3 separate regions of the Homo sapiens genome follow, and all the other regions are linked to region 1. A link means that fine-mapping ties the variant in region 1 to the expression of a gene that starts in the linked region. Tissue or cell type: fibroblasts. Region 1 holds a variant in brackets; each other region holds the start of a gene. All regions are shown on one strand. Distances are between the middles of the regions.

Region 1 (8,087 bases):
ATCACCAAGAGAAATTAAGGAACATCTAAACAAATGGAGAGATATATCATGTTCTTGGGATTAAAAATTCAGTATTGTTTTAATTTCTTCCCAAATTTACATATTCAATGTTATCTCAATGAGTACTAGCAAGCTTTTATTTTTGTAGAAATTGATGAACTTATTCTAAAATTAATTTGAAATTGCAAAGGGCTTTTAATTGTGGAAACAACTTTGAAAGCAGAGAATAAAGCTGAAGGATGAACACTAGTTTAAGACTTAAAACTACAATAATCAAGAAAGTGTGATATTGGCATCAAGCTAGACAACTAGATAAATGGAATGGAATAGAGAGTCCAGAAAATGACAACAGCCTATAGAGATAACTGATTTCTAAAAGGAATGCAAAGGCATTTTAGCAGAGAAAAGGCAGCCTTTTAAAGAAATGGCGCTACAACAATTAAATAGCCACATGCAAAGAATATACTTTGATCCATACATCTCACAGAAATAGATTATTGCCTTATATGTAAAGGCTAAAACCATAACATTTTTGGAAGGAATTAGGAGAAATTCTTCGTGACCTTGAGTTAGGCAACGATTTCTTAAATATGACAAGAAAGGCATGGTCTATAAAAGCAAATATGATAAATATGACTTCATAAAAATTAAAACACTTACTCTTTGAAAAACACAGCTAGTATAATGAAAAGACAAGCCATTGGCTGGAAGAAAATATTTGCTTCTCTTATACAGCAAAGGACTTTTAACCAGATTAGCTAGATAACTGTTAAAACTCTATAAAATGAAAAGAGACAGTGATTAAAAATGATCTATTGGTTTGAATGGACACTTCACCATAGAAAATGTGTGAATGGAAAATAAGTCCATGATAAGATGATCAATACCGTTAGCTCTTAGAGAAATGCAAGTTAAAACCTCAATGAGACATGATTGCACAGTTATTAGATGGCTAAGATTAAAAAGACTAATGACGCCAGGTGCTGGTGAGGCTGTATAGGAACTGGAATGCTCACATGTCACTGGTTAAAATATTAAATGTTACAACCGCTTTGGAAAAGTTTTATATTTTTTTTAGTTTTGTATTTTCCATTTTTATTTAAAATCTCCTAATATTATTTTTTGAGCCTATTAATGGTATAGGGGTTTATTGCAAAATTATATAAACATTTTCAAACAAAAGGTAAGTAAGTATGGATTATACAATAAATGACAAAACACTACTGTGTAATACTTAATATGTGGGTGTTAGACAAAGTGTTAGACTTCATAGAATTTCTAAGGCAGCTTTGTTCTGCCTGCCTTTTCTACACACATTTCACACATATTTAACATGAGTTTTCCTTTTTCCCACTGACCTTCTCACCTGGCAGCTTGCTTCTGAGTCTTTCACACAAGCCACACACAGCTGCTTGGTTGAGCACTTAAGTGGCCATCAGGCAGCAGTGTCCCTAGATGTTCCTGCTCCAAAGCACGTTTTTAAAGTGAGTAGCTGCATTCTGTCCTTGAAAGAAAAGTGTGAATAACATCACATCAGAAAGGACTGGAGAAGGAGAAGCAAATCTTAGCGGGTGTTAAATGGCTTCCAGTGTTCCTGGCAGACTGAGATGAGACCGCAGCAGAAACCAGAGGCACGAAGCCCACCTCAGCCTATTGTGAAGAATCTTTTAATATAATACTCTATACTTGTTGGTCAAAATCTTGTATTGGGTACTTTTGTTGAATTTTCAATTATATTATCTTTTGTTTCCTGTAAACTAGGTCAAATTTTCCTGAAGGTCTGATATAGTATATTTCCTTTTTAAATCATATATAATGTGTAATAATATTTTAATACATGAAACAGTCAAATGAAGACAGTTTTTACTATTTAATACATGAGACAATCAGTCAAAGGAAGACTTTTTTACTATTGATCTAAATGCTTGATCATACTGTAATTAAAAAGTGAAATAGCTGAATTTATTGATCTAAGAGCATTTATGGATCTTCAAAAGTATTCACTACGTTAGTAATAGATGCAAATAATGGATATTATGGCACAATGACTAGTCTAAGAGAGGCGACGTGTTGTCATTAATTTTTTTTCATTCAAATCTATTTATTTTTATTTTTAAAATTGTAGTAAAAATCACACAACATAAAATTTACCATCGAACCTATTTTAATTGCATAGTTCGGTGACATTAAGTGTATTCACAGTTATGAATATACTGCAAATAGTTTTTTTTTCAAAAGTTAAACACATAACTACCATCTGACATGGCAATTCCATCCCTATGTACTTCCCAGGAGAAATGAAAACATGTGTGTTTATAAAGACTTGAACACAAATGTCCATGGAAGCTTTACCTGTAATTGCTAACAACCAGAAATGACCCAAATGTTAATCAACAAGTGAATGGATAAAAACTAATACATCCATTCAGGGGAGTAATACTTAGTGATATAAAGGTTAAAAAAAACCCGTTGAGACATACAACATGGACAAATCTCAAAATAATTATGCTGAGCCAAAAAGCCAGACAAAGAATAATACATAATTATGATCTTATTTTATAAAATTACAGAGAATGCAAATGAATCTCTAGAGACAGAGGTTAATCAGTGATTGCCTAGGGAGGGTGGGGGAGAGGGGAGGAGTAAGAAGGAACAATTTCAAAACATTATCACAAAGCAAATTCCCAAGGAGATGGATAATATCCTGATTTTGATAGATTCAGTGTTTTCTATGGGTTTTTACATCTTTAAAAATCTATCCAATTTTATATTTTAAATGTGTATAATGTATATATCAATTGTATAATTCTTATATAAATTCAGCCTCAATAAGGCTGTTAAAAAATAGAAGCAACGTGAAGACTGTCTCAGACATACAAAAGTAGAGAGACGCCACTGTCAGCAGCCGGCACCACCAGGCACTAAAGGACATTTTAGAGTTGGTTTCCAGACAGAGGGAAATGATAAGAAATAAAAATGAGGGTCTACACAAAGGAACAGGAGTGGGTGTAAAATGCATCAGCAAATACAAAGCGTGTTTTACCGTATTTTGAAATCTCTTTATTGAACATTGTTTTAAACAGTAATAATAATACATTTGGGGTTTATAAGTAGAAGCAAAATGTCTGCTAACAATAGCACAAGGGCTGGGAGGTGGGAAATGGAACCAGGCAGTTGTAAGATTATTAAATTACATGGGAAGTGATGCCATATTATTTGTTATTCTTGGGTATTCTTGATAAGTTAATGCTGTGTATTGTCAACTCCAGAGCAACCATTTATAAAAACAAACATGATTCATACACCACTTACAAAGCTAACAAAAATGTAATATAAACCCATGCACACTGTGTTCCAGCAGAACTTCAAAACAATTCTTAAATGATGACTTGGTGGGAATTAGT[T/C]ACTAGAATTTTCCTTCATGGCCTTGCAGACCGAGGACTTCCGCCAGCTTTCGCATGGGAGAGCGTCCTGGCACGGGGTGTCTTTGACGTGGGCAGACTGAGGACTTCAGCCAGCTTTCAAATGGGAGAGCGTCCTGGCACGGGGTGTCGTTGACGTGGGCAGACCGAGGACTTCAGCCAGCTTTCACATGGGAGAGCGTCCTGGCACGGGGCGTCGTTGATGTGGGCCATGAGTTTGCACCTTTTCAGATGGTGGGAAGCCACTCACAAGTGACAGAGGGTGTCACATGATACACAAAACCGAAAGGAAGCCCTAATCCCGGCAGGAAAGGTCTGTGTGAGGATTCACCAAGAGTGGACGTCCAGGAGTGTGTGACGCCGGAGCCGGTGTGCCCCACGCATGTGTAGGTGCTCACAGGCACACGCCTGCACGGAGGGCTGTCTGTCCAGGCCACTGCTGTGTGGTGGCCTCACTGCTGCCTTCCTTAATGGCTGATAACACTAAACTCTTTGATGTATCCAATTCCCTGCTTTATTTTAACTCAGATTATTCCTTACTGTGCCTTTGGCCATCAAATATTGACTGCATGATAACATTGTACTTTGTTTCTGTTGTCAGTGCATGACGTTTTCCACTCTCTAGGGAGTTCCACTGCCAAGAGAACACAACTCATCACCAGAGGAGACAGGATCGGGGAGGAGGCGGCCAGGCCAGCCCTGGCCCCGGCCACAGGAACACTGGCGTCCCCTGGCTGGGAAAGGACAAGGTGTGCTCCAGTTCTGGCCACGTCTGTCTGGTTTCCCCATCAGAGGTGGTGGCTTGTGAACTAGGAGCGCTCGAGTCCCAGCGCCGTGGCCCAGTCACCAGACGGTGGGTGGGGAGCCGGGCTGGGCCCTCGCCCTGGCCACAGTGCAGCCCGCTCCACTAGCTGGGACCCGGCTTCCTGCAAAACCAAAGCTCAAGGCTGGGCAGGGCAGCCAGCTGTGTCCCAACTCACCCCAAGTTTCTGCACTTCATGTCCGAGCAGATGGGCTTTCAGAGGGGACGCTGCCCTAGGGTTTCACAGCCACTTATGCTGAGTGATGCCCAAACCTGTAACTCCCAGTCACTGATCCTAGGATCCTTGAACCACAGGATGCTGACCTCATTTCCCCACCCATTGGTGGATGCGTTCATCAGAGTCTTCCAGAAACCGCGGTGGGGGGATCGCCCAGGATCGCACTCAGGAATCCCGCCGAGGGAGCTCTGTGAATGCAATTTAGGCGACCGCACTTTCTAATGTTTGAAATATTGCGTCTAAGGAGACATTTCTCTAAATGTCACAGGAGACACATGCATGTTTAAGAAATGTACATGAAAGAACATACTTGAGTATATGCCAAGTATGATGACCTAGCTATGATAATTTTCAAAAATGTAGCAATCGTATTGTCAGAAACTATTATTTTAGAGGTTAGAATGTTGACCACCCATTTGTTTTTAAATTATTATTATACTTTAAGTTTTAGGGTACATGTGCACAATGTGCAGGTTTGTTACATATGTATACATGTGCCATGTTGGTGTGCTGCACCCACTAACTCGTCATCTAGCATTACGTATATCTCCTAATGCTATCCCTCCCCCCTCCCCCCACCCCACAACAGTCCCCGGAGTGTGATGTTCCCCTTCCTGTGTCCATGTGTTCTCATTGTTCAATTCCCACCTATGAGTGAGAACATGTGGTGTTTGATTTTCTGTCCTTACGATAGTTTGCTGAGAATGGTGGTTTCCAGCTTCATCCATGTCCCTACAAAGGACATGAACTCATCCTTTTTTATGGCTGCATAGTATTCCATGGTGTATATGTGCCACATTTTCTTAATCCAGTCTATCGTTGTTGGACATTTAGGTTGGTTCCAAGTCTTTGCTATTGTGAATAGTGCCACAATAAACATACGTGTGCATGTGTCTTTATAGCAGCATGATTTATAGTCCTTTGGGTATATACCCAGTAATGGGATGGCTGGGTCAAATGGTATTTCTAGTTCTAGATCCCTGAGGAATCACCACACTGACTTCCACAATGGTTGAACTAGTTTACATGGCACCCAACTACTACTCGACATTCGTAACCTTTTATTCATTAGAAATGACCAACGGGAACTTTAAATTACATGACAGCAGTTTCCTTCTTAGAAAGAGGAAGGTAAAACTCAGAGAAACCTATCAAGCCTGAATAAAGGAGTAAACACAAAAATGAAGCAGTTCCAACTCTTCTATGGGGCTCCCTACCTGTGGTCCTTCATCCTCATAATATTATTTTCTGAATGGCCTCTGACAGCCACGATTTCCCCAAATGATCAATGTCGTCAAACTATTCAGCATGGCAGATCAGGAAAATTGTCAGATTTATTTTAGAAAGAATTTTAAAGGACAGGTGGACTCTAAAGGGATGTTGTGCTTAGCTAGATATTCAAAAATGCAATTAACGAACACATTCCTTCTCCAGATACACCGAGTTTTCCTGTGTGTTCAGGTGTTTGTTCCGAGGGTGCGTTAGTGGACGAATTCCTCCACCTGTGCATCTGGAGACCTGGGGATGTCTATGCTCTTTGCCCCCTGCCAGGTAAAAGAGTAAACTTCTAATAATCAGCTCAGATTCCCTTTTGTTGGGTTAGGAGATGAAAATACGTTGTACTGGATTCTCTTTGAAATCTAAAATGTCCGTTGGTTTTGGAGTTTTCTAACAGAACCGCCCTTCAGGTAAACATCCAAAACCTTCCTGTGACCCCGTGCAGAAGCGCCTCCCACAGCCCCCAGAGGAGAGAGGTAACCTCGGCAGATGCTGAGACCAGGGAGCCACCTCTCTTGGGCTGTGCTGGAAGCATCTCTGAGCTCTGCTCAGGTGGGAGTTACTGACACGCATATCCGTGCGAGGGCTGGCGTTTCCTTCTTTCATCAAACTGCCCATCCCCTCTGCAGCCAGTGCAGGAGTCGCGGAGTGCCGCCTTGGCTCTGGCCGCCTGAAGGCCTGCCGTGCTGGAGAGCGGGTCCAGGGGTTGACATCTCTATTCTTTTGTCTGACAAATCTGTGCACTGGCTTGTAAAAAAAATCAATACTGTTTTTCCTTGGTTCTCTCTCCACAGGTGAGCTGGTGGATCGTAGCGGCTCTCCCCGTTCCCGCCTCCAATTCTGTTCTCAGTTTGTTTCTCTTGCTTCAGGGTTGAGCATGTGATCATATCTCCAGCGGACGACACCAAAAGAATGTCTGTGACCTCGTCCCCTGGCGACCACGTCTACAGTGACTGAGTGCTGCCGTGGCTGGAAAGCCAGGGTCTGCATCTCCCAGGACCTCAGGACCTGTGATGAGGTGTTGTGGGGCCAAGAAGAGGAGGGGGTCCATGGTGGGCTCTGCCGCAGGTGACCCTGCGCACTGTCCTAGCACCTGTGCCTAAGGAGATGCCCTCTATGGTACCAAGCATCTCCCAAAATGTGATTTGCTCTTCCTGTGATAGAATGGAGTGGGCTGAGGGGGCGATGGGTGCTGGAAAGCCACAAGGCTGCCATTGATCTGCCAGAGAAGGCACCTGCTCACCTGGCAGGATGCTCACCTGGCAGGATGTTCACCTGGCAGGATGCTCACCTGGCAGGAATAGCAAATTTGCTAGAAAAATGCAGGTTCCCCTGTTCTGGGTGATCTGTGACTTCTGCCACACAGGGGATCCAGAGTGCGAGGATATCCAGAGAGCTGGAATGAGGATTTTGCTGAGCTGAGGTGGGTTGCTTTCCTCTCCTTCCCTCATGAAATCACAAAACCCATGCTCATCTCCCAGATGACCTAAGGGTGGCAGTTCCTAGAGGCAGGCGATAAATGAGGCACAGTGACCTCACGTCCAGCCTAGTTTCCTGTGTTCATTCCTGAAGGGACCTGAGTGTGGGAACAGAGTGCTCTCCTCTCTCTCTTTCTCTCTCATTCTCTCATTCCTTCTTTCTCTTTCTCTCTCTCTTTCCCTTTCTCTCTCTCTCCTCTTATTCTCCCTCTTTCTCTCTCTCTTCCCCCAGCCCCCACGTTTGTCCTTCTCCTTCCTTGCAGTCTTGCTCTTTTTCATCCATATTCCCTTTTACTATAAACTTGCTCATCTTCACTGAGGTTTAACCATGACCCAAGTTCTAGATCTTATGGGCTATTTATTATGAAGACCTAGGACTTCCTGTTTGCAGGTGAACACAGAAAGGCTTAGGATTCTTAGTAGAGAGCCTAAGCAGTCCAGATGGGAGACGTGCATTTAAGGAGAGAGATCTGATGGCCGCTCGCTGGGGATGACGCCCTTTTTGGTCCATGATCAGCCCCTGGTGCCAGGTGAGGGGACCAGGCATCGAGCTGGTCTTCAGGCCTCAGGGCTCAGCTGCCACAGAGGAGGACCCATGAGGACCTCACACCCCTGAGGCCTCCCTGAGTTCTGCTCTCCGCAGGCCTGGCCTGCATCATTTCCAGCAATTTCCACAAGTGCTTCCTTTTTAAAAGCAGAGTCTTCAAGATTGACCTTGTATAGTATTCATTTATTTAAAAAACCCAGCTTCTGCTGTGGTGCTCACTGAGCGATTGGAGCAGTGCTGAGCACGGCTTCCTTGGGTGGGCCTCGACGGACACCCACCCCTCTAACTGCTTAATATCACGAATGTGTCCTAAATTCACACT
Region 2 (8,087 bases), 660 kb after region 1:
ACACAGGCAACATAGCACAGGGGAAAAAACGGTTTTCTTTCCGAACAACGACAACAACAAAAAGCGGAAAAAACATTTGATTTTATCTTTTGAAGACAAAACGCCTCTGAGAGTAACTGGAACGTTCTGTTTGCCTCTAGCCAACGGCAGAAAAGCGGATTCAACTCTGACTCCTTAACAAGACACCGAAACACACCCAGGCTCATTAGGGCGACACGCTGTAATTTGAATTTCGTGGCAATCTGGGTTTGCCGAAACTAAGACAGCCACGATAGTAATAGTCAAAATAACAGTAAATTAAGTAAAAATAAATAATAACAGGGCAAGTCTAAAAAGAGGGCCACACCTTCTTTGGCTTCCATCTCGCCCTCCGCCCTCACTCTGCTAATTCTGGGTCCCAGGAGTGGCCCCCTGGATCTTCTTCCCGGACCCTCCCTCGGGTCTCCCGGGCGCTCCGCCTCCCCGGGGCTGGCTCTCCCTCCCCTCCCGGGCGCCGCCGGCCGCGGGCCGCCTACCTTTCTTGGGCTCGTAGCCGCCGCCCGGGGACCGGTAGTGGGACTCGAGCGGGTGCGCGCCCGCCTTGCCCGCGTCGCTGGCCGCCTTTGGCGCGGTGTGCAGGGCCTCGCCGGGGGCCGCGGCCGCAGAGTTGTACCGCAGGAGACCCTGGCCCTGCAGCGCCGCGTTCAAGTTCCCGTAGTTTGTGTAGTTGCCGTAGAAGGGCGACGTGTAGTAGAGGGGGCGGCCCAGCAGCGGCGAGGCAGGGTAGGGCGAGCCTCCTGGCGGTGCCCCGGTTGAGGCCGGCGCGGCGGCCGCGGGCAGCCCCGGTGGCCCGCAGCCCGGGCCCAGGCTCGGCTGCTTGAGGTCCGACGTGGCGATCTCGGCCAGCGACCACAGCTTGGGCTTGCTGGCGGGGGGCGGCGCGCCCGGAGACGTCCGGCTGCCCTGGGGCGTCTTGCGGCCACCGCGGGGCGCGGCCTCGGGCGGGGGGCTCAGCAGCGGCGCCTCCAAGCCGGTAAGCGGCGACGAGGTCACGGGCTTGGGCGGCGCCAGGCCCCGCTCGCCCTCCTCGTCGTCGTCCTCGTCGTCCTCCAGGTCGTCATACTTGTCCTTGCACTCCGAGCCCGATTCGCACAGGGGGTCCCCGGCGCGGCACGGAAGCTTCTCCCCGTCCGACTCGGCCGAGCACGAGTGATCCGTGAGCGAGTCCACGTGCAGGCTGATCCCTGTGGGGGCGCGGGCACGGTGGGTGGCACGAGGGGACAGCGCAGGCACCTGGAGCCCCCTCCGCCCCCTGTCCTGCGGCACTGGGCCCTCCCCACGGGACCCCTCACCTCGCCCCCACCCGGCCACGTGACAGGCGGAGCCTGACCTCCCCGGGAAGGGCCCGAGGAATCGCTCGCTCAAATCCCGGCGACCCCAGGGCAATGTGGTGCGGCTGGGGCTCCGGCCCGGACCTGGGGTGTCCGGCGGGCAACGTCCTCCCCGCCTTAGCTCTGCGCCCCGCCTGGGAAGAAAGCGCCCCGAGACCTTGCGCCGGCCGCTGCCCGCTCACCTTCGTCCTCTGCCGAGGTCTCCGTGCCCTCCTGCGCCTTGTCGGGACTCTCGTCCTTGCTTCTGGTAGCGTCGCCCTCGTCCTCGTCCTCATCTTCGCTTTTGTTTCTCGGGGCCCAGGTCATCTTGTTCTCCTTCTTGAGGCGCCGGCGCGCGTTGGCGAACCAGGTGGAGACCTGGGTGAGGGTCATCTTGGTGATGATGGCTAGCATGATCTTCTCGCCCTTGGTGGGGTAGGGGTTCTTGCGGTGCTCGTTGAGCCAGGCCTTGAGAGTGGCCGTGGCGTCCCGCGTGGCGTTCTTGCGGTACGCGGGGTCGTTGAGCTGGTACGGGTAGGCCGCGCTGCCGTACGGGTGGTAGCTGATGGCGCCGGTCATGCCGGTGGTGTGCGCGTCGTAGGGTGCGCCCTGGAACCAACAAGAGCCTGTGAGTGGAGTATGCGGAGACCCCGCGGGCAACCAGCCAGAGGATGCCACCCCTCCGCCCGCCCACGGCCACCGTTCCCCCCGTGAGTCTGGCTCTGGGGCTGCGCTTCCCGCCGCAAAAGAGCAGGAAAAACGCAGTGTGATTCGGGACCAGCTGTTGATCACAAAAAGTACCGGAGTTTTATTCTCGAATTTCTGAACTATTTCACTTTCCTAAAATGACCCATCTTCCCCTAAGTGTTCCGGAGCCGCTCGTGGCAATGTACACAAACCCTTGCACGTGCGCGCACACAGGCCCACAGGTAGCTCTTTGATATCTAAATTTCTGCAGATGCTTGGAGTGCGGCTGCCTCCCCCTACTCCCTCTTCCCCTCCCTTATATGGTTAAAAAAACACCCCAGAGCCCCCAATTCACTATTCACTGCTCTAAAGCTGGGCAAATCCAATTTGCAACTCAGAAGCCAGTCACCGTTTCGAATTCTTCAAATACGCCGTAATTAGCATTTTAATTCATCCTTTAACGTTTAAATTCGAGGCATTTGCAGCCTTCGCCAAGGCCCCAGCGACTCGGTCGCTGCCCAGAAATTCCGCCGAGGGCCGGCAGTCGCGACAACCCCGTAATGGCCTCAATCGCCCGTAACGTGCTTCGCCGCGGCCCGGGCCTGGCCCAGCTCAGTAACCTCGAGACTCGCGAGCCGCCCCCAGGTCGCCGGAGCAGGAGCTGCGCTCGGGCCACGGAGGACTCAGGCGGCCCTTAGCGGGTCACGCGCCCGCAAGCACGATATTTGAAAGCATGGTCCGCTGGACAGAGTAAGGCCGAAACCTGGGCGCCTCGGGCCGGACTCCGGAGCCGCAGCTGAATGCTCGGCTCCTGGGCCTAACTCGGTGACCCCCACCGCCCTGAGCCCCGCGAGTGAATGCGAACCGCCCGGCCGTCGGCTCAGAGGCCGCAGTGACGCGGACCCTCGCGCCCCACGCCAATGCAGGCGAGCACACAGCCCGCTCCGAACGCCTCCCCAGGCTGCGGTGCGGAAACCAGGGACAAACGGCGCCAGACCCCGGCCCCGGCGGAGACGCACTTCCCAGGCTCTCAGAGAAAATCAGCCGGCGAGCCGAGGGGACGCGCGGGGGGCGCGCGGGTCCCGGCCGGGCTCAGGGACGTCCCCGCCTGCCGCGCTGCCCTCCCCACCCGGGGCCCGGCTCAGCCTGCGGGGCGGCCAACCGAGCCGGCGACTCCTGAGTCGCCAGCCGCGCCACATTCCCGGCGGCCCCCGCCCGCCGAACCCGAGCCCCGCTCCGCCTGAGCCCCGTCTGGGTCCCGGCGCCCAGGAGTCCCGCGTCCCGCCCGCGCCCGGTTACCATGTAGGACGGGAAGCCGGCGGCGGCGGCGGCGGCGTCGGCCGAGTACTGCAGCGGGCTCCCGAAGCCGGTGGCCGCCTGCGCCGTGAAGGCCGCCGAGCCCGGGTAGGGGCTGAACGCCGAGCCCGACGCCGAGCGCGCCAGCTCCTCGCTGCGCGGAGCCGCCAAAGCCGACGCGCCGTAGGCCGGGCACGAGTAGAGCGCCAGCGAGCCGGGCGCCTGGTACAGGTAGCCCTGCGGGTAGGACATGGTGGGCGCGGGGCGCGGGGCCCGCGTCACGCCGAGCAGCGGGCAGGGCGCGCGGCGCCCTCCATCCACGCCCGGCCGGGGCGCGGCGCGGCGGCGGGCACCCGGACGGCCGGCGGAGGCAGGCCGGCCCGGGTACTAGCCTGGGCGGCCCGCGGGCCGGGGCGGCGGCGGGGTGGCGGTGGCGGCGGCAGCAGCGCGGAGCCGGTGGGCGCAGCCGCGCGCCAGGCCGGCGGTCGGGGTTTGGGGGAGTCTGGAGTCGGGAGTGAGGAGTTGAGGAAGGAGCGCTCGAGTTTCCGAGGGACATTGGAACGCGCAGCTGTCCATCACGCGCTCATCTGCATATTCGGGGGCCCGCCCCTCCCCTGCTCCGCCCGCTGCAGCCTCCGGGCCGCGGCCGGGGGAGGGGCAGAGAGACGGGAGGGAGGCGGGGGAGGGCGGAGGCGACGGAGGCGGGCGGCGGGAGGGACCGGCAGGCTTTTGTGGCGCAGCCGCCTCTCTAGCAGCTCCGGCCCCAGCCCGCGGCTCGCGGACCTGCAGCCCAGCCCGGCCGCGCTGCGTGCCCCGGCGCGCACCCCTCCCACTCCCATCCACTCGGAGCCACGTCCCCTGCCCGGCTCCGGCCGGCTCCCACCGTCCCCGGCCACCGTCTTCGCCCCTGCCCGGCCCCCGCCCCTTCCAGCCACTACCCCGCCCCCACCCCCTTCTCCACCCTCACGGACTAGGCAGAGGCCGCCCGCGGTCAGGCCAGGCCGGGTCCAATTAGGGGACTCACAGCCTGCCCCGCTGTGCACCCCGAGGAGGCCCGGCCCCTGTGTCCAATCCGGAAGTCGCAGGGAAGTGGGGAGGTCAGGATGGTGGCGCCCGCGGCTCGGGTCTTCCTCCGGGCAGTGCGCGCGGCTCTCACTTCCACGGTCCCGGACCTGCTCTGCCTCCTGGCCCGAGGCTCCCCGCGTGGCCTCGCGTCTGGTCGCCTACCCCTCGCGGTCCACTCCGCCCAGCATGGACCTGGATCCGGGGCGCCTTGGTTGCGAATTGCCAGGAGGGCCCTGAGGTGAGCTTTCTGCCCCCAAATCCGCAGCGCAACCCCCGGGGCCCTGAACGTTACGACTTTCCACTGTTGGGAATGACGCCAGGGCTTCAGCTAAGAAGACGCCGTCCCCTAAAGAGTTTTATTTTATTTTGTTTTTCTAAGTTGACTCCTCTTTCAGATTTGTGTTGTCAAAACACTGGGGGGATGATTGTTACCTGACAAACCGCCTCTGGCAGGACCTGAAGCCTCCCAGTCACGTCGAGAACGGGCAGGAGCTCAGGTTGGCGCCGCCGGTGCAGTGGGCATTACAGGTAGCTCAGGTGACGCGCGGCTGGAGTAGGGGGGCGGTTGCCTTGCGGGGCTCAGAAGCGAGGCGGTTGGCGAGGGTTCCTAGGACCCCAGCTTCCTAGAACCCTCTCCCCATCACGCTTCTCCAACCCTTTTCCACTCGGGGATGGCCGAAGAGGGCGTCTGGCTGCCCACTCCGAAGGGTCACCTATGGGGGGCGCTCAGGGGGATGGAAGAGTGTCAGGTCTGTGCTGGCCTATTGGGAGCACCCACCCAGCAGGTGCCTCTATCCTCGGAAGCCGTCTCGGGTGGGTGCGGTGGAGAAGAGAGAGCGCAGTGGCCTGGGGCGGGCCTCAGCTCAGGCCTGCAGCCGACTCCTGCACCCCTGCTGGCCCTGCAGCCTGCGGAGCAGCCTTAGTGATCTCAGGACGCAGGGCATGTTGCGGCCTCCCTGTGGTGCGGCTGCAGCGGCGCGGAGGGAGCGGAGCCCGGGTTGCCAGTCTGGTCCAGGGCGCAAGAGAAACACTCACGGCATCAGGCTGTCTTTCCCCAGGTGCAAGGGAACCAGTTGCAAACTGCAGTGCTGTGCTTGAGGATGGCTCCTCCTGAGCCGGCAGGCTCCCGGTAGGCGCGGTCCAGGCACGTTACCCCTCCCGCCAGGAGCTCCCGAGCCGAGCCACTCGCCCCCTACCAGTTATCCCACCCACCCCTTCGCCCACACTGCTCCCCCACCACTCTTCCTACAAACCACACCCCCATCCTGCACACATCCTCTTCAGGCCATCTCAACACACGCACACGCACACACACCCACGACCACCTCTCCCTCCACCCACAGACACCCCGTTCCCACAGGCTGGGCCCCCTGCAACGACCCAGCGGGGGGTTTCAACCTTGTTGCGACTCCACATGGGACATCCTAATTCAGTCCAGGACAGATATTTTTAATCAATTACTATAGAGCTGAAAAACAGAGAGAGAGAGAAAGCAGCCGGGTTGGGCAAGCCGTCGACAGTCTGCGACATTTTTGCGCTTCCTGGGAGGGAATTCCTCCAAGAAGAGGGGTAAATGAGAGGCCCACACGCTGGATGGCAAACACAAACACTGTCAGATCAGATGGCAACCTTTAGGGTTCCTTTACGATCAGATCAGTTTAAATGAAAAAAAAATCGGGTGTAATTTTTATCACCAGGGAGCACTGGCCTGGAGTATTTCCATTTCTAAAGAGCGGTTCCCGCTGTGGTTTCATTAGCATTTGGGGCTCATCCTCCCTCCCCCTCCCTTGACCCACCCCCCTCCCCCCGCCGGACCTCTGCCAGGGGCAGAAGAGAAAACAGCCAGTTATTATACAAACATCCTCAGTTTGGAGCTGGAGTGTCTGCTCTGGATACAGTCGATTCTGACATCAATTAAATATATAACCAGACACGTGCAGTGGCGGGGAGGGTCCCCTCACCCAGGGTGCATCTCCAGAAACGCCGCCTGCCCTTCCCCCTCTTTAGCTCAGTGTTGGGAGTTTGAAGATGGCCTCTTCCCGTCCTGTGTGTATTTTCCCCTTAGCAATTATACTCCTCCACTGAAATCTATATGTTCCATACCGCTGCTGCCTGTTACTAATAAAAACCGTCTACCTTGCACTATTAAACAGTCGACTCTTACTACATGCCGTTTTTATTGGTAGTGACTGTAGCAAATTAAAATGCCTACGCAGGGACATTAAAAACTTAACACTCGTCATTGTTATTGAAATATATAAACTACGTTTTGCTTTAAAGCTCTCTGATATTAAAGAAAAAAATCACATTCCTTCTTCTTAAGTTAAAGTTGGCTTGGTCTTCTTCTTAAAAAAAAAAAAAATCAATCATGAGAAAACATGCTGCCAGCGTGGAGTCTTGGCGCGGCGGTCCCGGCGAGGCTGCCTGAGAGGGTGGCGGGCTCAGCCCAGACTCCGTCTCGGGGCCACGAGGGCTGCAAGGCCGCGGCTCCCGAAGAGGAGGGCCTGGGATGTTTTGCTCAAGGGCGAGGCGGGGTGCTCAGGCCTGTGGGGTCGCTGGGGAGAGCCCGGCACTTGGCTTCTGAGGCTTTTCAGTTGCCGTCCGAGCAGGAGGGAGGGAATGAGCAGGCACGCAGGGAAAACCCAGTAACTGCTTTGCAAACGCGACCCCTGGTCACAATAACCCAGGCGATGGGGGCAGTTTCAGGTTCCTGGTGGGCCCTGCCCCCTTTCCTAGGTGTGCCCTAGGAGGTGGGGAAAAAATTAACACTGTTTCTATTTTTCTTTATTGTCCCTGCAACAGCCAAAGAATTTAGAACGAGTCTACGTGGACACGCAAGTTTCAGCGAGCGGGGATTTCCTGCGAGGCCGAGCGCGAGGAACAGCCGGCCCCGGAGGCTCGGGCTCGGGGTCTCCCCGGGGACGCGGCCGACTGAGAAGGCCGGGGCGCTCGCCGGGCGCGGCGCCGTCCTCCGTGTCGCGGGGACGGAAGGAGGCGACGCAGGCCAGGAGTCGTGCGCGCGGGCGGCGAGGGGGCGCTGTGGCCCGTGTCTGCCGGCCCGAGTCCCGGCAACGGTGGGCGCGACCCACCTCCTCCCCCGGCGGCTTAATTCGGGGAAGAAGAAAAAACGGCATCGAGGCATTTCAATAAAACCTAAGCGACTCCTGATCCTTTCTCATTGTGGTTCCTTATGAGCTTTCGGTGTCTGGCGGGGAAACAGTTACCGTTCGGGGGTGTGGCAAACTTTTTTGGCAATTAAGATGAAACAGACGCTTTTATGTGGGTTTCCTTTAATGAAGTAACATTGGAAATGTAAGTAGTTTCAGTGCATCAAATCACATCGCTACCGTATTCGCGGTCACCGGCCCTCCCGTTCCAGGGCTCCCCGCGTTTGTCGAGGGAGAGAGCGAGGCAGGAACAGGGGGCCGGGGACATGAGAAGTTTGGCTAAGAAATTTTTCTTTTCTTTGAAAACAAAAGCGTTGTTATAAATGGAACAAAATTTAAGTCAACATGGAACCCACATCTCTTTCAAACGTCGTTTCTAGGTCTAGTACTCTGTGAGTAGGTTGGACTGGATTTCACGCTCAACCGGCATTTCTAGGCTCTCAAAGACGCTTCCGAGGCCTAAATGTTTTCCTGGAAAACACGTGCAGAGGAGCATCCGTGGAAGACTGAAAGGTCCCCGCAG
Region 3 (8,087 bases), 300 kb before region 1:
ACTCGCAGGGAGGCAGGGAAGCCCCAGCCCCCACCGGTCCGGCACAGGAAGGAGACCTGGACCCTGGGAGTGCCGGTCTCGCCTCCCACTCTCCTGGGTGAGTGACAGCGACGCTGCCAGGTGGGTGGTCCATCAGTTAGACCTGGTCCGTGAGTAGCCTCCTAGGTGGATACAAACATGACAGCGTCCCACAGAGCACCTCGCCTCCTTCTGGAAATGCATAGACAGCTCCTATGTTCTTCTCTCCATCTGGGCATCATTTACTCTTCCTTCACTTGCACTGCTGTCCCCAGTTGATCTTACTTTAAAAGTCCCTCAGAGAATAACCTAATAACGTACACCTGAATAGCACTTCTAACTTCTCACAGTATTTTCAATCCGTCTTTCAGTTCATTGGCACCACACCTTCAGGAGACAGGGAGGACATTGGCAAGACAGGGCTGGCATCTGGCAGGGCCCCAGGCCACCCGTAGGTCTCGCGAGTGCAGGGACAGCTCCTGACAGGATGACCCTGCCGGCCCACGTGCCCACTCCTCCTCTCTCTGCAGTCGCCTTTCTCTGTGCCCATGAGGACCTGCTCAGCCCACCTTTGGGTGGCTTGGAAGTGCCTGGGATTTAAGTCCCCACACGGTCACCCTCAACCACCAGTGACGAGCATCTGTGGATAAACGCCCCCCCCCCCCCAGTCCTCATCCCCTACAGGACACCAAGGTCCATTCCGCCAGAGCTCAGGGGACACAACAAGGTGGCACCCGGTGTCGCTCTGGTTCTGTGCCCTGGAAGCTCCTCTCCCTCCCTGACTCACATCCCCACTCCCCATCCTGACTTCCGAGATCACCTCCCAGTGGTGCACCTGCATCCCAGCCCTCGTCATGGCAGGCGGCAGCAACCCTGGTTCATTGATGGGGAAACGTGTTGCCCCCCAGGGAGTGCTTGACAGTGTCTGGGGCACTTTTGGTTGGCCCTGCTTGTGTGTGGGGTGCTCCCGACATCTTGTGGTGGAGCCCAGGGATGCTGAACACCCGGCAGTGCCCAGGATGGGCCCGGAGCACAACCCAGCCCCAGATGTCCACAGTGCCGATGCCCAGGATTCCTGGCCTGGTTCTGCAGAATTCTTTTATTAATCACTTATTCTGGACTGAAGCCTGGATAGGTAATTATCAGCCTTAGATTTCTACTCAAGCAAAATTAGCAGAATCCCACCTTTCCCCGTTGGATCAAGCGTGCCATGAAATCCATGCCTTCTTTATTCCTTCCTGTTGGCTCCTGTGCCACGCTGCCTTGCTGGGGATTTGTCTGTGCAATTGTCAAGAGGCCACGACTGTGTGCCCACGTTTGCATGGCACGTAAGCACATCACACCCAACTGCAGGCATGCAGCCGGTGGTCAGGTCTCCCCCCAGAGCACTGCGTACTGCAGAAACACACCCAGTTTTCATCCACGCAGGATGGCTTGGATGCCCCCTGCCCGTGCCCAGCCTCAGGCCCCTCCTCGGGTTGCCTCCCCTGCAACCAAAGTTTCAGCTTGGCCGTCATCCCCTGCAGGGAGCATCCTTGACCTCTTGCCTTGGAGGGCCTGGCATGCTTCACACACAGCACTCACCAGCCTGTTTCACACGCTCCTACGCAGTAAGGGTGTGAGGGCAGCAGCACCTCTTCTCCTCCTCACCCCAGGGCCCAGGCTAAGGGTGCTCGGGAAGCATCAGCAAGCCATGCTGGGGGCTGTCAGGACCCTGTGGTTCTCAAAACCACATCACCCACCCCGTGAGAGATCAGAGACATGGACAGCACACGCTGGCTGAAGGTTGCAGTCTGCTGAGGGTCACTACAGCGGTGCCACTGACCCATCACACCCTCCCACACTGCCTGTTCAGGTAGTGTATGCAGACACACGCGTATATATGTGGACACACTCATGCATGCACACACACGTGCCATATACACACATGCACGCACACACACACGCTTGAGGAAAGTCCTCTCTCTTGCTGAACTATTCTCAGCCCCAGTGCATAACAGGTCTCCTAGTGGGGTCTGGCTTCTGACACTTTCAGGGGCCCCCGTGACAGACACTCTAGTGCATCAACTCCTCACTTAAGAACGGCTCGAGAGAGGGCTTCCCTTTCACTGCACAACAGAAGCAGGCTCTTCGCAGAGCTGGTTCCCTTTTCTTTCAGGTAATAACGCTCTCCACCTTCTTCAACTGGCCAGACGCCTGCGGGCTGCAATGCCCATGTCAAGCTGCTTGCAGAGGCCCTTTGTGAGGGTGAATGGGCACAGCACAGAGTTCACAGCAACACACACCGGCGTCTGCTCCCCCTGGAGAAGTGATGTGGGTGCTGGGGAGGAGCTTTGGCCCTCATGTGGCCATGCTGCCCCCTCTGCCGCCCCACCAGGCCTTTCTGGGTGACCCTGCTGCGCCCCTGCTGCTGATCTGGGCAGGAGGGCGCTCCCCCCGCGCTAGGCTTCTTGCGTGGTCTCCTGTCTCACAAAACTCCTTTCTGGGAGAAGGGGAGGTGTCCCTGGCCAGGAGGAAAGGAGCCGTGAGAAGGCTGTCGCATCTCAGCATCTGCTCTGGGTTGGACTGTGCTCCCCACCCCCAAATTCATGTTGATGACAGTGCTCCCCCAAGGCATGGGGCTCACTCAACTATGAATCCCGATGACCAGGGAAGGACCAGCCCACTCCATCCCTCCAAGTCCTTACCAGTTGTAGGTGTGGTCATCCTCTAGCAAGGGGAGCTCCTTGCCTCCCCCTGAATCTGGGCTCACCCTAGGGACTGAAAGAGTGCGGTAGAAATGACACGCTGGAATTTCTGAGGCTGGGTCATAGGAAGCCTCGTAGCATCTGCTTGGGTCTCTCGGGACACTCTCGGGAAGCTCACTGTGGGGCAGTGCAAGCCACGCTGTGGGCCCTGCCTGAGGAGGTGCTACGTACAGCCTGAGGAGCACTGAGACCCCAGACAGGAGAGCCGGTGCCATCTTGGAAGTGGGTCCTGCAGTTAATGCCACACAGATCAGACAAACTGCTCAGCTGAGCCCATCCCAAATGCCTCACAAAATCGTGAACAATGTAAAATGGCTGATTTAAGCCACCAAGCCTTGGCTTGTACAGCGACGGGTGACCAAAACACCACTTCTTCCAAGAGGCTCTAAGCAGCCTCACGGAGACATAGAGAAGTCCTGCCCAGCCTCACCCAGCACCATCCAATCCCTACCTGCAGCCTGAGTTCAGAGAGAATGAATGAACTAAGCTATTCGGAAGGTCTATTTTAATAGGAAAATGTTTTTTAGTTGGAACGTTTTGGAAATAAGATAACGCAATGTCTTCTATAGTTACTCATTTACACTGAAACGTGATGGGTAACTTTTAGGGCGTTTGCTTCCAGTCACTTTCCCCTGACTCCTTGATGTGATAATTCCTTCCATAAGATACAACCATTCTCCCAAGTGATGCGATGACGAGTATGTGCGTGACTCTGGAGGGAAAGGGTCTACATCTGTCTCTGCTTGTGCCTCGGATGGGTTTTACAGTAGACGTACCACCGACCCCGCCTCTTCACCAGGTAACAGTCCTTGCAGCGCTTCTTAAGGACAGTCTTGTTTTTGAACCCCAGCGCAGGCAGCAGATGGGGCAGGAGGCCGGGTGAGAGAAGTGAGCGCACTGCTGCCCCGGGTTCCACAGCCACGGGGGCTGCACCTCGAATGGATCCAAATAGAAATGTGGAGAGGGCTCGAGGCTTCACCGTGTGACGACTGAGATAGAGCAGAGGGTTCACCATTTTCCTTATAAAAAGATTTGCCATGTTGTGGTGAATCTATGGGAGAGAGAAAAAAAGGAGTTATAGCTTCTCCTGCACTTCCACCTGCTCTTTAAGGCTTCCTTTTCTCTGTTTCACTGAGGCTTGGGAAGGCAGGGACCTCGGGGACTGAGGGTGTTCCCATACCAGCTGCAGCCTCGACCTGAGCTTGAACACTGCCTTAATCAGCCAAGTGTGCCAGGAGAATAAGGGGCAGTGGACGGTGGCTTCCTTCCCTTTCCCGCCTGCTGCAAGTGTAGGTGAGTGTGCAAAGCCCTGCGATGTTGAGGAGCCGCTCACTTGGCTGGGAGGGAGCTTAAACTTAGGCCGCATCCCTTTCCAAACAGACACCAGGTCAAGGACGGTTCAACTGATGAGCTCCTCCCTCCAACTCTTCCCAGACCCAGGGGCCCTCCCTCGGGCCAGTTTCGGGACAGGCCCCCGCTCCGGAAGAGCACGGAACTCTGGCACCCCGGTCGCCCGCCCCTGCTTCCCCACGCGCCCCGGCCCTTAGGGTTCAGCGGCCCCGGCTGGGAAGAGCTGGGCCTGCAGGGCCCGGAGGACACTGCGGCACCGGAGCCGGCCCTGCGCGCGGGCTGTGAGGTCGCGTTCGGGAGCCGCCAGTTCTCCCGCCCCGGGGTCGCTGGACACCCCCTCCTGTCGCCAGGTCGGGCGCCCACGGTCGGACCCGCACCCCCCAACCCTGGCCCTCTGAGACCGCCAGGCCCCGGCCCACGCTCCTCTGACCGCAGCCCACTCGGGGAGACACGCCCGAGGGTCCCAAGGTGGCCGGCCCCACCCTCTCGCAGCCCCCACTCTCAAGACACCCGGGACCCCTGACCTGAGAAGACGGCTCCCTTACCCGGCCGCACGCTCTCACCCGGCGCCGACCCCTGCGTCTGCGCACTGGCACGCGGACGCTGCTGCCAGGAAGGAAGATGGCGGCGGGGGGGGGGGTCACGTGGCGTGCCCACGTCCAGTGCGGGGCGCAGAGACGCAGCAGCGAGTGCGCAGGCGCTGGAGTGCGACGTATCACTCCCCGACTGCGCGCACTCTGCGGGCCACCGGGATCGTCGTGCTGTTTGGAGCGCTCTCGGGAAAAAAAATGCAAAAACCAGGAACGAAAATGGATATCCGCAACGAAAAAGAAATTACAACCACTTAGGCCTTAGAAAAAACTGGCAAATACCAATGTCAAAACAAACTGAGAAAGAGGACATGTTTTTAAGTGGACAGGAGAAATGTAAACAGGCTCCGGGAAACGAGTGGAGACGGGCAGTAGTTTCAACTGGTTACGGCTGTTTTCCCCAACATTATGAAAAACTTCGGACATAGAGAAAAAGGGAAAGAACTGTACGGTGAACACCCATATACTTGCCACCTAGATTCTACCCTTAGCTCGCTTATCCCTGCCTTTTCAGGTATCTACCCGTAACTCCATTCGCCTTCCTTTTTGTGTGTGTCCGGGTGAGTTGCAGACGTGGCTGCGTCCACTCCGCGCTCCCTGCAGGCCCCAACGCTTCATCGCAGCGCCCACTTTTTCCACCTGACCCGGCGAACACCGGGCGGGCCGCTGGAGTTTATCAGCTCCAGGACAAATCTGCCTCTGACCACCACGTTTGCTGGGACATCTTTGGGACCGGAGGTTTTCATGTGCATTCTTGTTTCTCATGCCTTTCCTCCTCTTTATCATCTTCCCCGCCACTCATCCATCTCTAGTGTTTTGTTCTTGGAGTCACGTGGTCCTCAGGCTCTGACCACAGCAAAAGAAAAGCTGGATGCTGGAGCTTAAGCTGGGATTTATACCCAAGTCAACTCTAAGCAAAACGGGCCTTTTTAGAGGCTGTATTTGCATGCTGTAAAATCAGTCGGTGTACTAGGCTTTGTTGCAGAAATCCCCAATATACGTTTCCTCTGCGGCTCCCCGTAACCACACACAGGAACGCTTGCCTTGAACGAGGAGAATGCACTTCCAGTCTCGTCTGCTAAGCAGTTGACTCCTTCACCCAATAATTTTGATATTTAAATGTCTCATGATTATCGGTTACCATAAGAATATAAACAATGTATTTTCAGTTTACATCCTCCCCTGCCTGTCCGCTAAATAAGAACCACTGGGTACTCCTAATCGCTGAAGGTTTCGCACACCATTGCCTGCCTCATCAGGGCCCTAGCTCTAGCCTGCGGCTGCAACTGCATGAGGCTGCACCTGCCGGCGCAACGGGGCCGCTTAACTTTTAGGCCATTGATGAAAAGTCAAACAAGCGCACAGTACTCGGTGTAATCAGGGGCATTTTTAGCGAGATACCTGGGATGAAAACGGGTGACCACCTGAATCAGAGAGCAGCTCCGGCGCACCCTCTGCCCCGACCCGCGCTCCCCGCCCCCAGGGCGAAATAAATACCGGGTGTTTGGCGCCGCCAGAAGCCGTGCGCATGCGTTAGCGCTAAGCGGGACGTTGCGCCGGGTCAAAGGCCAGCGGCGCAAAATGGCGGCGGCGATGACCTTCTGCCGGCTGCTGAACCGGTGTGGCGAGGCGGCGCGGAGCCTGCCCCTGGGCGCCAGGTGTTTCGGGGTGCGGGTCTCGCCGACCGGGGAGAAGGTCACGCACACTGGCCAGGTAACGGCCGCTGGGTACAGGATGCACCTTCCTCCAGCCGCACCTCGGGCGACTGGTGGCAGTGGGCTCGCCGGGCATCCGCGGCCCTGGTTCTGCGCCGGCAGCGCAGGTCGTGGTAAGGTTGTGCTGTCGCTCACGCGCCGGGGAGGACGCCCGCGAGTCGGGACGGTGGTGGCAGCCTGTAGCGGTGGGTCTCGTCCTTCCAGGGCCTGCGGGCTCTGGAACGGGAAGTCTCCCCAGCGGGCAGCACTTGCTGTGGACTGGCTGCCCATAGGCGATTTGTGGCAGCCGATTATTTGGGTCAGAACGTTTAGAATTTGTGTAATATTCAATAATAAATTTTAGTAACCTGAGAAGTCGGTTGTAGTCCAAGGCACAAAAAAGCCCTAAGCCAAAATGAAGAACAAAGGTACCTGTGTATACTGGAATGTGCCCTAGTAGATTTAATGGGGGGATAGTAAAGCTCTCAGGCCATATGCCAAAGAAGGTTGGGGGCGGTTCTCCTCGGTCAGGATTTGTCTCTCCTCCTTAGCTCCACCTTCCCGGGCTATGTCTCTGTGCTGCTCTCTGATCCAGGTGACCACCCGTTTTCATCCCAGGTATCTCGCTAAAAATGCCCCTGATTACACCGAGTACTGTGCACTTGTTTGACTTTTCATCAATGGCCTAAAAGTTAAGAAAAACACTTTCCTGTAATATTTATGATTGATATGAAGTGACTTTCAGAATTAGGCCGTAAAAGTCACACATGGTCTTTTTGTTTTTTTCCAGGTTTATGATGATAAAGACTACAGGAGAATTCGGTTTGTAGGTCGTCAGAAAGAGGTGAGTAAAAAATCTAGTGAAGAGAGGTAAGCTTTCCTAAAACTTTTATGTAACCAACAAGAAATAAAAATTAATATATAAGATTTAAATAAATTTTCCCCATATTGCAAGCACCCTAACAGTTCTGGATGGGGTTCTTCCTTTCTTAAAATCTTAATTGTGTCTATTTCTGACTTGTTTCCCCCTGAAATACATAACATTGTAGCCGTAGTTCTGGTTTGCATATAAATGGAAGTGATCTTTTTTAAAATTCTTGTCCCTTATTCTCCTGAGACTCTCAGATTTAAGTAAATCATATCAACTTTAAAAAAATTATTCTTTTAACCACCTGGAGGTGTGTTTTTTATAGTTTTCACCAAATAAATTAGTGTGTGTTTTTTACAGGGACTTACACTGACAAGCTGAAAATGGCACATGAGTTTTTCTTCCCTTAGTGGGTCTGTTAGCTCTATGCATTGTAAGGGAAGATCAGTTCAGGTGCCTGTGAGTGACCACTGGAGAAAGAATGTTGAAATTAGAATCCTTCTGCCTAAATCAGCCTATTTTTTTTTTTTACCTGACTCCTTCTCTATCACTCATGTCAATGAGCTCCTGAATTCGTAATTAGATCAGGCATGCCTCCATGATTCCTGAATTTGCTTCCTGAAGGATGCTGTGAAGTGTCCTTCACAGCCACCTTATTCATTCTTTTTCCCACTTTGGTTAGCCTGGTGTTCTTCTTGTTAACACCGTAGCTATCCCTAAATCATGTATTTTCCCTTCTCCTTCAATCTTGGTTACGTTATCCATTCCCAGTGTGTAGTTTTTGTACGTCTATTCCAGAGCTACAGGGCATTCCAGAAAA

Which allele goes with the higher level. Positions count from the first base shown, and alleles are read on the strand shown. Sizes are in standard deviations (SD) of each study's normalised expression. Not every link is listed here.
For the expression in fibroblasts of the gene that starts at base 3,848 in region 2, allele T in region 1 goes with a lower level than allele C (moderate effect, 0.40 SD a copy in GTEx).

The links. PIP is the estimated chance that this variant, and not a neighbour inherited with it, causes the effect.
Region 2: it holds the start of IRX2, and the variant in region 1 is fine-mapped to the expression of IRX2 in fibroblasts (GTEx, PIP above 0.99).
Region 3: MRPL36 starts here. The variant in region 1 is fine-mapped to the expression of MRPL36 in fibroblasts (GTEx, PIP above 0.99).

Annotation. Positions count from the first base shown.
Region 1 is chr5:2,090,630-2,098,716 of GRCh38, forward strand. It overlaps LOC105374618 (a long non-coding RNA gene), which reads left to right. Exons shown (of 13, transcript NR_171679.1): 8 at 5,897-6,013; 9 at 6,610-7,163. Among named protein-coding and RNA genes, the nearest start is that of CTD-2194D22.4, 210 kb to the left of the region's middle. The variant T/C (reference allele first, on the strand shown) is at 3,405.
Region 2 is chr5:2,747,830-2,755,916 of GRCh38, forward strand. IRX2 (iroquois homeobox 2) reads right to left here and starts at 3,848. Exons shown (of 4, transcript NM_033267.5): 1 at 3,336-3,848; 2 at 1,553-1,958; 3 at 516-1,223. The coding sequence starts at 3,584. It overlaps IRX2-DT (IRX2 divergent transcript), which reads left to right and starts at 4,064. Exons shown (of 4, transcript NR_122126.2): 1 at 4,064-4,635; 2 at 4,851-4,925; 3 at 5,456-5,526; 4 at 7,200-8,087. RefSeq lists enhancers at 1-932, 933-1,877, 3,963-4,887.
Region 3 is chr5:1,795,132-1,803,218 of GRCh38, forward strand. MRPL36 (mitochondrial ribosomal protein L36) reads right to left here and starts at 4,706. Exons shown (of 2, transcript NM_032479.4): 1 at 4,661-4,706; 2 at 3,254-3,816. The coding sequence starts at 3,804. The coding sequence ends at 3,493. NDUFS6 (NADH:ubiquinone oxidoreductase subunit S6) reads left to right here and starts at 6,276. Exons shown (of 4, transcript NM_004553.6): 1 at 6,276-6,418; 2 at 7,190-7,243. The coding sequence starts at 6,287. RefSeq lists a silencer at 4,176-4,585 and enhancers at 5,666-5,715, 5,776-5,905, 6,085-7,072, 6,516-6,655.